Linked DNA regions of Homo sapiens. The protein of the gene in region 2 binds, or shares a complex with, the protein of the main gene of each other region. Each region holds a gene or a part of one and is shown on either strand. Other genes may lie near its edges.

Region 1 (7,031 bases), on a different chromosome or scaffold from region 2:
ACATTGGTTAAAAAGATACTAATAAGTTTTTGTGCGTGTAACATTTGACACCAGGCTTTTAAGTAAAACACCCTAAGATGGAACTTACTGTGTAGTGGAAAGAGTTAGACTCACTAGACATTGATTAGCTGACTGACATAGAGCGTTTCTTATCAGTCAACAAAACTATTTCCAGAGAGGCTTGAAATAAAACAGTTGACTTTATGTAGATTATGGTTAATATCTTTTGCAGATTTTCTAAGAAATCTTTCCCTATCAGAGGTCCCCAAAACATTCCTTTATCATTTTCCTTCTAAATCTTTTATACATGCTTAAGAAATATGCACATGCTCTAAATTGGGGGAACATGATCCTTTATGTATTAATTGAATCAACTTTGGTTACCATGTTGTTCTATTTACTTTTTTGCTGCTCGAGCTAAAAATTGAGTGACTTCAAATACAACATAATAGTTTTTTTTTCCGTTTTGCCCTCTACATTTTTACTTTAATAACTTTGTTTAGAACTGTTATACCTACTTCAGTTGAAATTTTTATTATTTTTGAGAGTCTCCTTATCCTTATTAATGCTTTTCACTTTAATATTTGTAAGGCTAATACTGATACAGCTATCCTAACCAGGTATATTTGCTTGTTTTATTTTCCCTAATTCTACTTTTTGTCTTTCTCTGTCCTTGTACTGTCTTTTGTAAACTGTATATATTGAACAAGGTAGACTTTTTTTTTTATTAATCTGGTGAGATAGGCAATTTATATTTATTGTAACCATTTATTATATACTATGCCATTTCTTTGCTTTTTCTATGCTTTTTCTTCCTTCTTGCATTTTTGTGGTCTATCAAAGTTGGGATTTCTAAAGTGTTTTTCCCTTATTTCAGAATGTTTCCTCTCTACTGGTTTGAAAGTTATATTGTATTGCTATTCTTTAAAGGTTATCTGAAAATTTTCTGTTAAGTACTTAGATTAACAACATCTAAAGTCATTCATTATCTTAACTTCCATCCTAAAGAGTATCAGGATCTTGGAGCACTCACACTAACTTCTAAGTGCTCCCGGACACTTTCCCCACATATACATTTCCTGAGTTATGTAAAATGTTGCTAGTATTTTAATTACGCTCTTTTTTACTCCACAGAGTAAATACTTCTTAATATAGACAGTATTTATTTACATTTCCCATGATTACTGATTTTTTAGCTCACCATACCTTCTTGCATCTCAGACTTTCCTCCTAGTCATTTTGCTGTACTCTAAAATTCATCTTTATTCTTAAGTGAAAGTCCCTTGTTTGTAAATTCTCATTTTGAGAAAAAAGTGTTTTTAATATACCCTTGATTTTGAAAGATAATTTCACTGGGCACTCATTCTATTGAGTTATTCTCTCAGTACCTTAATGATGTTATTCCACTGTCTTTTGCCTTCCAGTTTTGGCACTGAAAAGTCTACTGTTGGCCAGGTGCAGTGGCTCATGCCTCTAATCCCAGCATTTTGGGAGGCCAAGGCAGGTAGATCACCTGAAGTCAGGAGTTCGAGAACAGCCTGGCCAACATGGCAAAATCACGTCTTTACTAAAAATACAAAAAAATTAGCCAGGTTGTGGTGGCGCACACCTGTACTCCCAGCTACTCGGGAGGCTGAGGCAGGAGAATCAATTGAACCCGGGAAATGGAGGTTGCAGTGAGCAGAAATCACACCACTGCACTCCATCATGGGTGACAGAGCAAGACTCTGTCTCAAAAAAAAAAAAAAAAAAAAAAGGTCTGTCAATTCGTTATTCCTTTAAAAGTGGATAAGTTATTCTGGCTGCTTTTAAGATATCTTTGCCTTTATTGTTCTGAAGTTTGAGTATAATGAATATACATTGGCTTCCTTTTCCTGGTTGATATACATTTTGCTTCTTGTATATGTGGATCCACTTTTTTTTTTTTTAGACAGGGTACAGTGGCACCATCATAGCTCACTGCAGCCTTGAACTCCTGGGCTCGTGTGATCCTCCCTCCTCAGCCTCTTGAGTAGCTGGGACCACAGGTGTGTGCCACCATGCCTGGCTAATTTTTGTATTTTTTGTACAGATGGAGTTTCACCATGTTGCTCAGGCTGGTCTTAAACTCTTGGGCTCAAGTGATCCTCCCACTTGAGCCTCCCAAGTAGCTGGGACTACTGGTTCATGTCACCACATCTGGCTAATTCTTAATTTTTTTTGTAGAGATGGAGTGGGGGCTCTTGCTTCATTTCCCAGGTTGATCTCAAACTCCTGGCTTCAAGTGATCCTTCTGCTTTGGCCTCCCAAAATGCTGTGATTACAGGCATAAGCCACCATACCAGGTCCCAGGCTTTTCTTAGCTCTGGAAATTTGTCAGCAATTACCTCAATTTTTTTCTATTTTTTACTTCTTAGACTCCAATCAGCACATATTAAACCTTCCCATTCTATCCTTCAGGTCTCATAATCTCTAATTCTTATTTTCTATCCCTTTACCTGTTTTTGCTGCAATATGTTGTTTCCTCAGTTAAAACTTGATAGTCAACAATTCCTTTAGTTGTGGTGAATCTGCTCTTAAACCATTCATTATGTTATATATTTCAATAATTAAATTTCATACCTAAGTTGTCTTTGGTTCTTTTTAATATCTGCCTTTTAACACATCTCTCATTTCATGTTCGTTTTAATTCATACATTATTTAAACATATAACTGTTATTCTACTTCTGCTAATTGCAATACCTGAATTCCTTGAATATCTAAATCTACTGTTTCTCAATGCAAATGGTGTGTTTCCTTGCATGTTTGATTAATCTAGAAGCATTAATTAGGGAGGCTTTCCTTCGGAGGGGATTTTCATCCACTTCTTAGAGTAACCACCAGAGTCCACTGACTTAGGACTACTTTAATGCTTTAAAGCATTCCTGGTTTTATGAAGGAATCTTAGGTTCACTTTCTTTACTTTGCCTGGAGTCCATGGCTTAAGTCTCAGAGGCACAGTTTTCCTGTTTCTCAACTACTTTAATTTTAGCCCACTCTCATTGGTAATAGCCTTTAGTGATTATCTTTCTTTCTAATGAGCCAGGAAATGAACTAATATTATGTGTGTTGTATTTTATCCAAGAACTAACTGTATTTTAGCAGGAGGATCCTTGAGTATACCTAGTCAACCATATGGCAGGAAGCAGAAATCATCTACTTCGTAGTTGATTTTGGTAATTTGCATTTTTCATATAAATTATTCATTTTCTGTTTTGTGATATATTGGCATAAAGTTGTTTATAGTGTCTTATTATTTTAAAATCTATGTTTGGTTATTTATCTGTACTTTCATTCCTAAATTTTTTATGTCTTCTGTTTTTTTCCAAATCGGTTTCACCAAGTTATGTGTACTTTATTTATTTAAAGAGACCAACTTTTGTTTAAATTGATCCTCTCAAAAAAAAAAAAATTGATACTCTCTTCTATAGTATAGGTTTATACTCCAGGGGTCAACCAACATTTTCGGTAAAGGGCCAGAAATTTTAAAATTGAAAAATGCAGGAATCAATATGAAACACTTAATTGATAGGCTCAATAGCAGAATGGAAGCTACTGCAGAAAGAATGAATAAATCTGAAGATAAAATGATAGAAATTACACAGTCTGAACAACAGAAGAAAACAGGCAGAACAAAGATGAACAGAACCTCAGGGACTTACGGAACTACAATAAATCTAACATTTGTGTCATCAGAGTCTCAAAAGAAAGAAGAAAGAAGGAAGACTGAAAAAGTTCTTGAAAAAAATGACAGCTGAAAACTCCCCAAAATTGGCAAAAGACATAAACATATAGATGGTGAGAAGACCTCAAATATAATAAACCCCCCAAATCTACAAGATACATCATGGTTAAACAACTAAAAACTAAACACAAAGGAAAAAAAGAAAAAGAAAAAAGACAAATGACACCTATCTATAGGGACCAAAACAATTTAAAAAACTGGATTTCTCATGGGGAACCATGAAATTTTCTTTCCTTTTTTTTTTTTTTGACAAGGAGTCTCGTTCTGTTGCTCAGACTGGAGTACAGTGGTGCGATCTCAGCTCACTGTAATCTCCGCCTACGGGTTCAAGTGATTCTCCTGCCTCAGCTTCCCAAATGGCTGGGATTACAGATGTGCACCACCATGCCGGCTAATTTTTGTATTTTTAGTAGAGGCGGGGTTTCGCCATGTTAGCCAGGCTGGTCTCAAACTCCTGACCTCAAGTGATCTGCCCGCCTTGGCTTCCCAAAGTGCTGGGCTTACAGGCGTGAGCCACCCCTCTTGGCTGGAAGTGGCAGAACAATTTTCAAGTGCTGAAAGAAAAGAACTATAAACCTACAAGTCTATGTCTAATGTAAATATTCTTCAGATATCAAGGGAAAATCAAGACATTTTCAGATGAAAGAAAACTGAGAGAATTTGTTGCCAATGGAACTACAATAATAATAATAAGGCTAAAGGAGTGCTCTAAACAGAAAGGAAATGATAAATGAAGGAGTTTTGGAATATCAGACATCAAAAGTCTAACAAAAAATACAACCAAAAACTCTACATATAAATCTGAGAGCTTAGATGAAATGGACTAATTCATCTAAAAATACAAACTGTCACAACTCAATATGAAATAGATAAATTAAACAGCCATATAACTATTGTAAAAGTGGAAATTACAATAAAAAGAACTCCCTCCCCCAAAATCTCCAGGCCCAGATGATTTCATTGGAAAGTTCTATCAAATGTTTTAAAAAGCGCTGACACCAATTCTATACAATCCGCTTTAGAAAACAGAAGAGAAAGGAATACTTTCCAGTTCATTTTGAAGCTAGTATTACCCTGATACCACCAACCAGTATGTCGCATTAAAACAGATGCAAAAATCCTTAACAAAATATTAGCCAAAAGAATTAAGCTATATATACAAAGATACACCACGACCAAGTGGAGTTTATCTCAGGGATGTAACAATGGCTCAACATTCAAAAATCAATCAATGTATCTACCACATGAATGGGCTAAAGAAGAAAAATGGCATTATGTAAATTAAGGCAGAAAAAGCATTTGACAAAATTCAACATAAAATTCATAATAAAAACTTGCAGAAAAAAAGGAATAAAAGATAACTTCCTTAACTTTAGCAAGAGCATCTACTTTAAAAACCTACAGCTAACATTATACTTCATGGTGAAACACTGAATCCTTTCTGCCTAAGACCAGAAACAAGCCAAGGATCTCTACTCTCACTGCTTTTATTTCTGCTGGAATTTCTACCCACTGCATTAAGGGACTGAAAGGAAAAAAAAAAGGAATATAGGTCAGAAATGAAGAGATAAAACTATTCATTATTTGCAGATGACATGACTATCTATATAAAAAAAAAATCCCAAGGAATCAATCAAAATCCCCTAAAATGAGTAAGTGGGCTCAATAAGGTCTCAGTATACAAAATAGAAAAATTCACTTTATTTCTATGTACTTAGAATAGACATGTGAACAGGAAATTCAAAATACAATGCCATTTACAATCTCTCTCAAAAATTAAATTGCTTAGGTATAAATCTAACAAAACATGTACAGACCTTGTATGCTGAAAACCACACAATACTGATGAAGGAAAACAAAATTTAACTGAAATGAAGTGAAGTGATCCTGTGATCATGATCGGGAAGGCTTAACATGGTAAAGATGTCAAATCTCCCCAAATTGATGTATAGGTATAACATAGTTCCTGTCAAAATCCCAGTAAGATATTTGAATAGATACAGACAAGATTATTCCAAAGTTTATACGGGAAGACAAAGGAACTAAGTGGCTAAAACAATTTTGAAAAAGAAAGTGGAATAAACCAGCCTATTTGATTTCAAGACTTACTACAGTAATCAAGATTTTGGTGTTGGTGGAGGTATAGACACATAGTCTAATGGAAAAGAATAGAAAACCCAGATATAGACCCACACGAATGTGCCCAACTGATTTCTCATTAACTCATTTTTGCTCAACTGATTTTTGACAGAGGTGCAAAAACAATTCAATGGACAAAAAAGAGCCTTTTCGACAAATATCATGTTGGAGTAATTGAATATCCATAGGCAACAACAAAAAAAATGAACCCAGACCTAAGTCTCACATTTTATACAAAATTAACTGAAAATGGAATATAGACTTAAAAGTAAAACGTAAACTATAATACTTTTAGAAAACAACATAAAAGAGAAAATTTGGGGGATCTAAGGAGAGAGGCAAAGTTCTTGATACCAGAAGCATGATCCATAAAAAGAAAAATGGATAGAGTGGACTTCATCAAAATTAAACACTTCTGCTCTGTGAAAGGCCCAGAAAAGAGAAATGAAAAGACATGCTACTGACTGGGAGGAAATATTTGCAAATCACACATCCAACAAAGGACTAGTATCTAGAAAAAAATACACACACACACACACAGAGGCACACACACACATTATTTAAAAGCCCTCAAAACTCAACAGAAAAAAAATCCAATTAGAAAAGACATGAAGAAACATGTCACTAAAGAAGAGATACAGGTGGCAAATAAGCATATGAAACAAAGATGCTCAACATCATTGCCATTAGCGAAGGGAAAATGGTAAATCAAAACTGCAATGAGCTGTCACTATACACTTATCAGAATGACTAAAATAAAAAAGAGACACCACCAAATGCTGAAAAGGACATGAAGCAACTAGATCACTCATACACCACTGGTGGGTATATAAAATAGTACAGCTACTTGGTATAAGTTTGGCAATTTCTTAAAAACTAAACATTCAACTACTATATGACCCAACTACTATATAACTGCTGGGCATTTGACCCAGAAAACTAGATTATGTTCACACAAAAACTTGTACACAAATGTTTATAGCAACTTTATTTATAGTAGCCAAAAACTGGCCCAATGTCTCTCAGCAGGTGAACAGTTAAACAAACTGTGGTACATCTATACTATGGGATTCTATTCACACTAAAAAGTACCTGTCAATAGACTTGATACACATAATAAGCTGGATT
Region 2 (7,031 bases):
GTCGAGGAAGAGCAAGGAGAAGGAGCACATCACGAGGAAGAAGAGGATCCACACGCGGAAGCCAGCGTTGTTTTTAATGGCCTGGGCAGGGACGGGAGCACAGGTGTTTTTATCACACAGGATTTTGGTTTGAGCAGCCCTGAAATGCCCCCCTCTTCCCACGTGCTCTCCTGATCCTGGCTGTAACTATGGGTGTCGTTCCATCTGTGCTTACCTTGAATAGATGGCTTTTGAGATCCACCAGAAGACAAATGGGTTATATTTCCCTCTGTTTGGCCATCATTTGGGTCCTGCACAATTCTCCCTCAACACAACTCTCGGAATCACTCCCTTCTGTCCCAGGGTTAAGGGCCCCGAGCAGAGTGTGACCGCAAGCTTTGTGTTTCCCAGTAACATGATGTCCGTGGTGACCCAACCCTGAGGACTGAGCTTGGGAAACAGTCCCCTCAACAGGATGGCTGTAGTGTCCTCTGTAAGCAGGGGCCAGGCTCTGACCCCTCGGTGGGGGCCAACGAGCTACCCATGTACATCCCTGGACATGAAGAGCTGGCCTGACCCTGCCAGGAGTACCCCCACCCACCCTGGATTGCTCCTTTGGAGGCTGGTGAGCCACTGCCTCTCGAAAGCAGCTGGAGGTGGGCGACAGGTGGTGGGTCTCATGAACACACGCAGCTCCGCGGTCACACAATTTTGTGATCAGCCCCGTGAGCTCTGCCCAGCAAGGCTCCTGGGCAGCTGTGCCGGCGAGACTAACACCCGCTGCTGGGACTCAGTGCTGCGCCACGTCGCACCTGGGGAACCTAAACAGTGCCTACCTCTCTTATGTCTTCGTTGCCTTCCTTGATATTTTCAGTTGCCCCCACAACTAACTGGTGAATGCTGTCAATCTCAGCTTCCTGTGGAAGAAAAGATAAATACAAGTTGAGTATCCTTTATCCAAAAACCTGAAACCCAAAATGCTCCAACGAGCATTTCCTTTGAGTGTCATGTCAGCGCTCAGAAAGTTTCAGATTTTGGAGCACTTAGGACTTCACATTTTGAAGTTTAGGGATGCTTGACATATACAGCCACTTCCTCCTCCCTGAAGCGTATATCATGACAAGAACAGTAGCCGTCACCAAGGGCTAACGGCTTTACTTGCATAGCCACAAATCCTCACAGCACCCCAAGAAGTAGGTATTACCTCTATTTTATGAAACGGAAACTCACGGCTCAGAGAAGTTTACTAACTTGCCCAAAGTCACATCACACAGCAACCAAGTGGCAGGACTGAGACTTTTTTTTTTTTTGAGACAGGGCTTAAACGATCCTCCCACTTCAGCCTCCCAAGTAGCTGGGAGTATAGGCATGTGCCACCACGCCTGGCTAAATTTTTAAAATTTTTTGTAGAGATGGGGGGTCTCCCTATGTTGCCCAGGCTGGTCTTGAACTCTTGAGCTCACACCATGCTCCCGCCTCGGCCTCCCAGAGTGCTGGGATTACAGGCATGAGCCACCGCGCAGGGCTGAGACCCCATCTTGTTGCAGTGCTCCTTCCGCCACACTTACCATCCCTCCTGCGCCACTCGCCGGTGACGGACAAAAACCTAAGAGCTATTGTTTGTGGAGCAGCCACCATATGCCAGGGGCTTCCCTTCTAGTCTCTCATTTCTTTCTGAAGTCCACAGAAGTAAGCTTTAAAATGTATGTGCTTCGAAATACATATGCTAGCTTCAAAAATAGTGCTTTGTGTTTTACTATCATCATATCTCTTAAAAAACAGGCTAAAATTTAAAAATCAAAATAGGATGCAGGATGCTTACAGAAAACGTTTACTCCAAACGAAGCCTTGAAAAGCTTGAGAAGCGTGGGATAACACAGGGGGCGTCTGGCCCCACAGGAGCAGAGACGGTGCTAGACGTCCTTACAAGCAGGAGTGCCTGCTTCTCTCCTCCTTTCGGTGGTGGTGAAGCTGCTTCCTAACAGGGTCAGGGCAGAATGAATGCTAGCGTGGGTTTTTAGAGAAACCTGACTGACACATTGTAGGGAGGAAGGCAGCATGTGGCCTCTGATTCCCAGCAATGAATATTACTGGGATGGCTTTGCCTCATCATCACCCCTTTTTAGAGAGTCTCAAAGTGTGAACTAAGTGACCACTGCCAAGGTTCCAATGAGAGAATCAATATGAACTACAATGCAACACTGATGGAAAAAACAAGAAAGACACATTGTTCCTCAGGACTTAGGAACTCCCAGTGGGCCGGGCGCAGTGGCTCTCGTCTGTAATCCCAGCACTTTGGGAGGCCAAGGCAGGTGGATCACCTGAAGTCAGGAGTTCGGGACCAGCCTGGCCAAGATGGTGAAACCCCGTCTTTACTAAAAATACCAAAATTAGCCAGGCGTGGTGGCATGCCTGTAATCCCAGCTACTCAAGAGGCTGACTGAGGCAGGAGAATCGCTTGAACCTGGGAGGATGAGGTTGCAGTGAGCCAAGATAGCAACATTGCACTCCAGCCTGGGCGACACAGCAAGACTCTGTCTCCAAAAAAAAAAAAAAGAAAAAGAAAAAAAAAGAAAAGAAAAAGAAACTCCCGGTGAGCCAAGGCAAGGCTCTGCCTATGCTCTGCACGCCCCTCCCAGGCCCCCTGGAGCCGCTGGGAGGTTTGAAGCAGGGTAGTGTTATTAAAAAGGGCGACTCCTATGAACCCGAACTTGCAAACCACTGTTAGACTTAATGTACCTCATTTACAATGATTTCACTCTGGCTGTGTGGTTTATGGAAAGTCATTTTGTGAGTGAAGTATCTTAAGTCAAGTAGTCCAGTTTAAAATACTGGAGAAAATTTTGTCTTTCAAACGTTCCCATAGTCTTTGGATGCTAAAAATAAAAGGGCAAATTTATCAGGTCTTGAAAAGTTTTGCCAGTTATTGGCTGGAAGAATTTCAGAAAATTCACTTGAAAAGAACAATCCTATTTCCCACGCAGACACCATCCCTGAGGTGGCATGGACCGCGCGTTGTGAGAGGCCTGGGTCTGAGCTCCTGTAACCTACTGACTGAAAAGCAACTGCCCGTCAGCATCGTGCTGGATGCTTCTGCAGTTATCTCTCAAACAGAGAATAACCCTGCAGGAGTCCCTCCCTCCTATAGATGGGAAACTGTAGCTTGTGGGGGCTACCTAGCTTACCCAGCACATCCAGAACCCTGACTGCCAGGCCTGGACTCTCCTCCCACGTGCCACCGCATGTGCTACCACATGGGGTGGTCAGTGGGTCCCCTGTGGGGAGCTCCTCCTCCATCACACGTGTGCAGAGGCAGCTCTGGGTAGTGAGAGCTTTTCCCTGAGGAGCTCTGCGCACACACACCTGCTAGCAACACATGGCTCTGCTCCTGGCTGTGTAGAGCAGCAGCCTTTGGGAAAAATGTCTCGTGCTCTCAAGTACATTCCCCTTTGAGTGAAAACATACAGCTCCTTTGTTTTTGTTTTTTTACCTGTTGCAAAACCTTTTCCGTGAATATCTCTTGGAGTCTGGAAATCTCAACCACTCTCCCTTCGATTTGCCTTCATAAAAAGAACAGATTACATATTAACTATTAGCACTTGGTAATCTAACAGGACTGTTACACACTTCTAAAGAAATCCTATCTTCTACGTGAAGGTGGGAGAGACAGGGGGCACACTGTGTCGGCTGGGGGAAGAGGAGATGGGAGAGGAAGGCGAACTCTCCTTACTGGGTCACCTTCCCTGTCTTCTGGCATAGCCTAGCACACTGGTCTTTTTGGAAGTCCACTCTACCATGCCAACTGACCCTCAGTCCCAAGAGGTGGGTGTGTGCAGTGCCCTTTGCATTCTGTGTCACTGCTCGGGGAATGGGGAGGGCCTGGTTGTGCCCCAGTTACAGAAAGCAGTCTCCAGTAAGTTCTCTGCCTAGCCTCATCACCATGGTAACACATGGTGGGGATTCAGAAGGTCAGAATATGCTGATGATCCAGCTTTGTTAATGCTCAGCAGGTTAAAGAAAAAAGTGTATTTACCTTCAAACCAACTCCCTGTTCCAAGAAAAAAGCTCCTCTGATTCATTTAGAAAATGCCATGTCTTGGTTTGGCAACGGAGTGTTCTGTCGGATCTGAAACACTTGGGCTAGCCATCTTCCTGGTGTCAGGGGCAGCATGGGCTACCCTGGGGGGCGGGTGGGGGCACATCTATTTAGAAACAGAAGCTGGCCCAAGCTGAAGTCAACTGCTGTTCCAGCACAAAGCAGCGACAGGAAGTGACAGGAGGCAAAAAGTGGTGGGAGCTGAGCTCCTGGCCAGGTGGAAGCAGTGATGAATCCCAACAGTATCACAGTGGCAGGGGGCAGGGGAGGAGATGTGGGAAGAAAAGCCAGTGAGTATCTGGGCATGGGGGAGTAGCGGGGTGGGGGCGGTAGTGGGGCAGACAGTGAAAGCTAGGCTGTCAGAGGAGGACTAGGAGGTCCATCTCTGAGGGCAGAAGGCGAAGAGCCCCTTGGAGGCTGACACCTACACTGAGAAAGTCCTCAGGCTGTGTGAGTGCAGCATCAGGATTGATTTTATTTGGGGGACATGTCCACAATACAACAGGCTCTGCAAAGTCCTGGGCCTTACTTTCAGCATGCTCCAAGCCTTCCCACAGAAACTAGAGGCTAACGGGTGCATGTGTGAGTGACCAAGGCCTTGCCTTCTGCATTCCTGACTCCCTGGTGGGTACAGGAGCAGGCAGACCCCAGTGGAACCATTTGCAGAAGAGGGCTTCCCTTGGTTAGCTGCCCTTCATAAGGGCCCCATTTCATTTCAGAGTCGCTGCGTGGAAACAGCCCGAATGGTGGTGGAAATTATACGCAGGTAATCTGTAGTCACTCCTGTATCTCTCGGGGTGGGAAGCACCTGGGCCCCCCGCAGCAGTGGCAGCAGGCAGGAGGTAACCCACAGGCCCACAAGCTGAGGGAGTTGTGGATTCAGGCCACATGCCCACCCCAGCCCAGTCAAAATGGCTGAGGGGGGCTGCACCAGCCCAAGGGCCCCATGGGGATGCCTGGGCACCAAGGTAAATAAAGTTCCTAGTTCCTGGAAAAGTTGTAAAGCAGGCTATCAGCTCACAGAGGAGCTACAAACATACCTCACTTCATCAAACAAGCTGTTCATTTCACCAATTAGTCGCTGATTTTCCTGTTCAAACTGTGAGGAAACAGACACACTCAGGATGACATCATACTGAACTTAGGCAAGAGTCTAGCAAGAAAGCGGACCTACGCTCCAGGAATCACTGCCGAAGCCCCCATTTCCAGCTGCGGCAACGTGGCAGCCGGTGCTGGACGACCGTTAGCATTAGTGTGAACAACGTCCCTGCTTTCAGGAGAAAGTTTTAAAAAACAGCTGTGCTGCCTGGTAATTGACTTCTCCATCTCAACCACTGCACTCCAGGGGTACAAGCTGACTGCTATGGCTGTAGCTGTATCTACCTACCCGCTCTCCCCTGGGATCCCACGGCCTGCTTCCTGACTCTAGTACCATTATTAAGAAAATTCTTTTGTTGTTGTTTTCTCTCATGAACTATACTGAAGGACTATACATATTTTTTAATATGGAGAAGGATCTGGTGTGGGGAGGGTCTGGAGAGGAAGGGGAGGTGGGCAGCTTGGCCGAGCTGCCTCTGGGCCCCTCTGACTTCAGAGCCTGGCCACTCCACTGCTCAACAGGGACAGAGGCCCAGAGCCAGAGGAGCGTGTTTCCCAGTGCTCAGGCTGGGTGAGGACGGGTGCCCTGACACCAGGGATACATGGGAGCTTCTTGGAGCTGAGTGAGCTTGGCACAGACAGTTGCTCTCCCAGCCATTCTTGCCAGTTTGATATGGGCCAAAGAAAAGGATGGAAGCTCCTGAAACTCAGCACAGAGAATGGACAGGAACAGCTCCTTGCCCTCACTGCAGGCCCCCACAGCCCTGTCCTCGTGTGTCCACTCAACTCCCGCAATGTGCAGGGAGTCAGGGGCGTCCTGCATTTCCTCCCCGATGCATCCCGCAGGCCCCACTTCTCCAGGACACCTACCCTGGCCCCTAAGCTCAAACTTATTTCTCATATTCCTATCCTTGGCCTACCATTTTCTGAAAATATCTTAGGATAGTAGCGCCCAACGGTCCCTTTCTGCCTTGTAATAAACTGTGCCCATCCCAAACTTCCCGTGTCACCCTGAGCTTCCTGAGGGCGGGAACTGGGTGGAACATAACTTTGCAAAGGCATTCCAGTTGTTCTTTCTTTCTTATAGATTAAAGCTGCCATCAAATCCACAAATATTTTCTGAGGCATTCTGTAAGCAGGAGTGGGAGGGATACATACAAGCAAGCCTCTGGAGGCTCCGAATCGATGGAAGATCTGGCTTATCACTTGCTTAGTAAACCAAAAATACAAGGGAAACAATGGTTATGGGAGGCAGCTGACCACCACGGGCTATGCTGGCACTTCATTCAACAGCCTGACCTTGTTGCCATTGTCCTAGGGCGGAAATGAGTTGCAGGGTCTCCCCAGCAGCCTCCTTCCCACCCAGGACCCCTCCCCTCCAAGTACCCCAGCTGTGCTCTATGCAGGCGCTCTTCACACACACGCCCCTTCCTAAGTCCACCAGTTTCGCCCCCGCACATGCACTTGCTGTATTCAGCCCTTCCCCTACCGTCCACATTCCACCCTCACCGTTTCTCACTTGCCTCCAACCTGTTATCCAATCCTTGGTCAAAGTGATCTCAAGTGCTGGTCATGCCAGAATGCCTCATGGTGGCCTTGCCCGCTGACCCTACAGATCAGGTCTAGGGCACACTGTTATCCATGCCCTGGCCACGTGACATCTCCCATCTCAGCTCTGCTCTGACAGGCTAGTTTCCTGCCTGGCTGCAGAACTCCACGTGGTCCCTCAAAACCCCAGGCATCTTCCTAGCGATCTGATACCTCAGGGCAGACTGAATCACCTTCTCTTACTTTCTCACTCTTGTTACCAAGTTCCCCTGTACTTGGCTCTTCAAGGACATTTCTCACACTTGTTCAG

The links. The genes of interacting proteins can lie anywhere in the genome.
Region 1: STX18 (region 2) and STX7 share a complex: the UniProt entries of both Homo sapiens proteins name them as parts of the SNARE complex.

What each region holds. Positions count from the first base shown.
Region 1 is NC_000006.12:132,447,104-132,454,134, forward strand, and holds part of STX7 (syntaxin-7), read right to left. Parts: 3' UTR 1-7,031. UniProt on the Homo sapiens protein: May be involved in protein trafficking from the plasma membrane to the early endosome (EE) as well as in homotypic fusion of endocytic organelles. Mediates the endocytic trafficking from early endosomes to late endosomes and lysosomes.
Region 2 is NC_000004.12:4,420,049-4,427,079, forward strand, and holds part of STX18 (syntaxin-18), read right to left. Parts: intron 5,175-7,031; coding exon 5,116-5,174; intron 3,540-5,115; coding exon 3,470-3,539; intron 897-3,469; coding exon 816-896; intron 82-815; coding exon 1-81. UniProt on the Homo sapiens protein: Syntaxin that may be involved in targeting and fusion of Golgi-derived retrograde transport vesicles with the ER.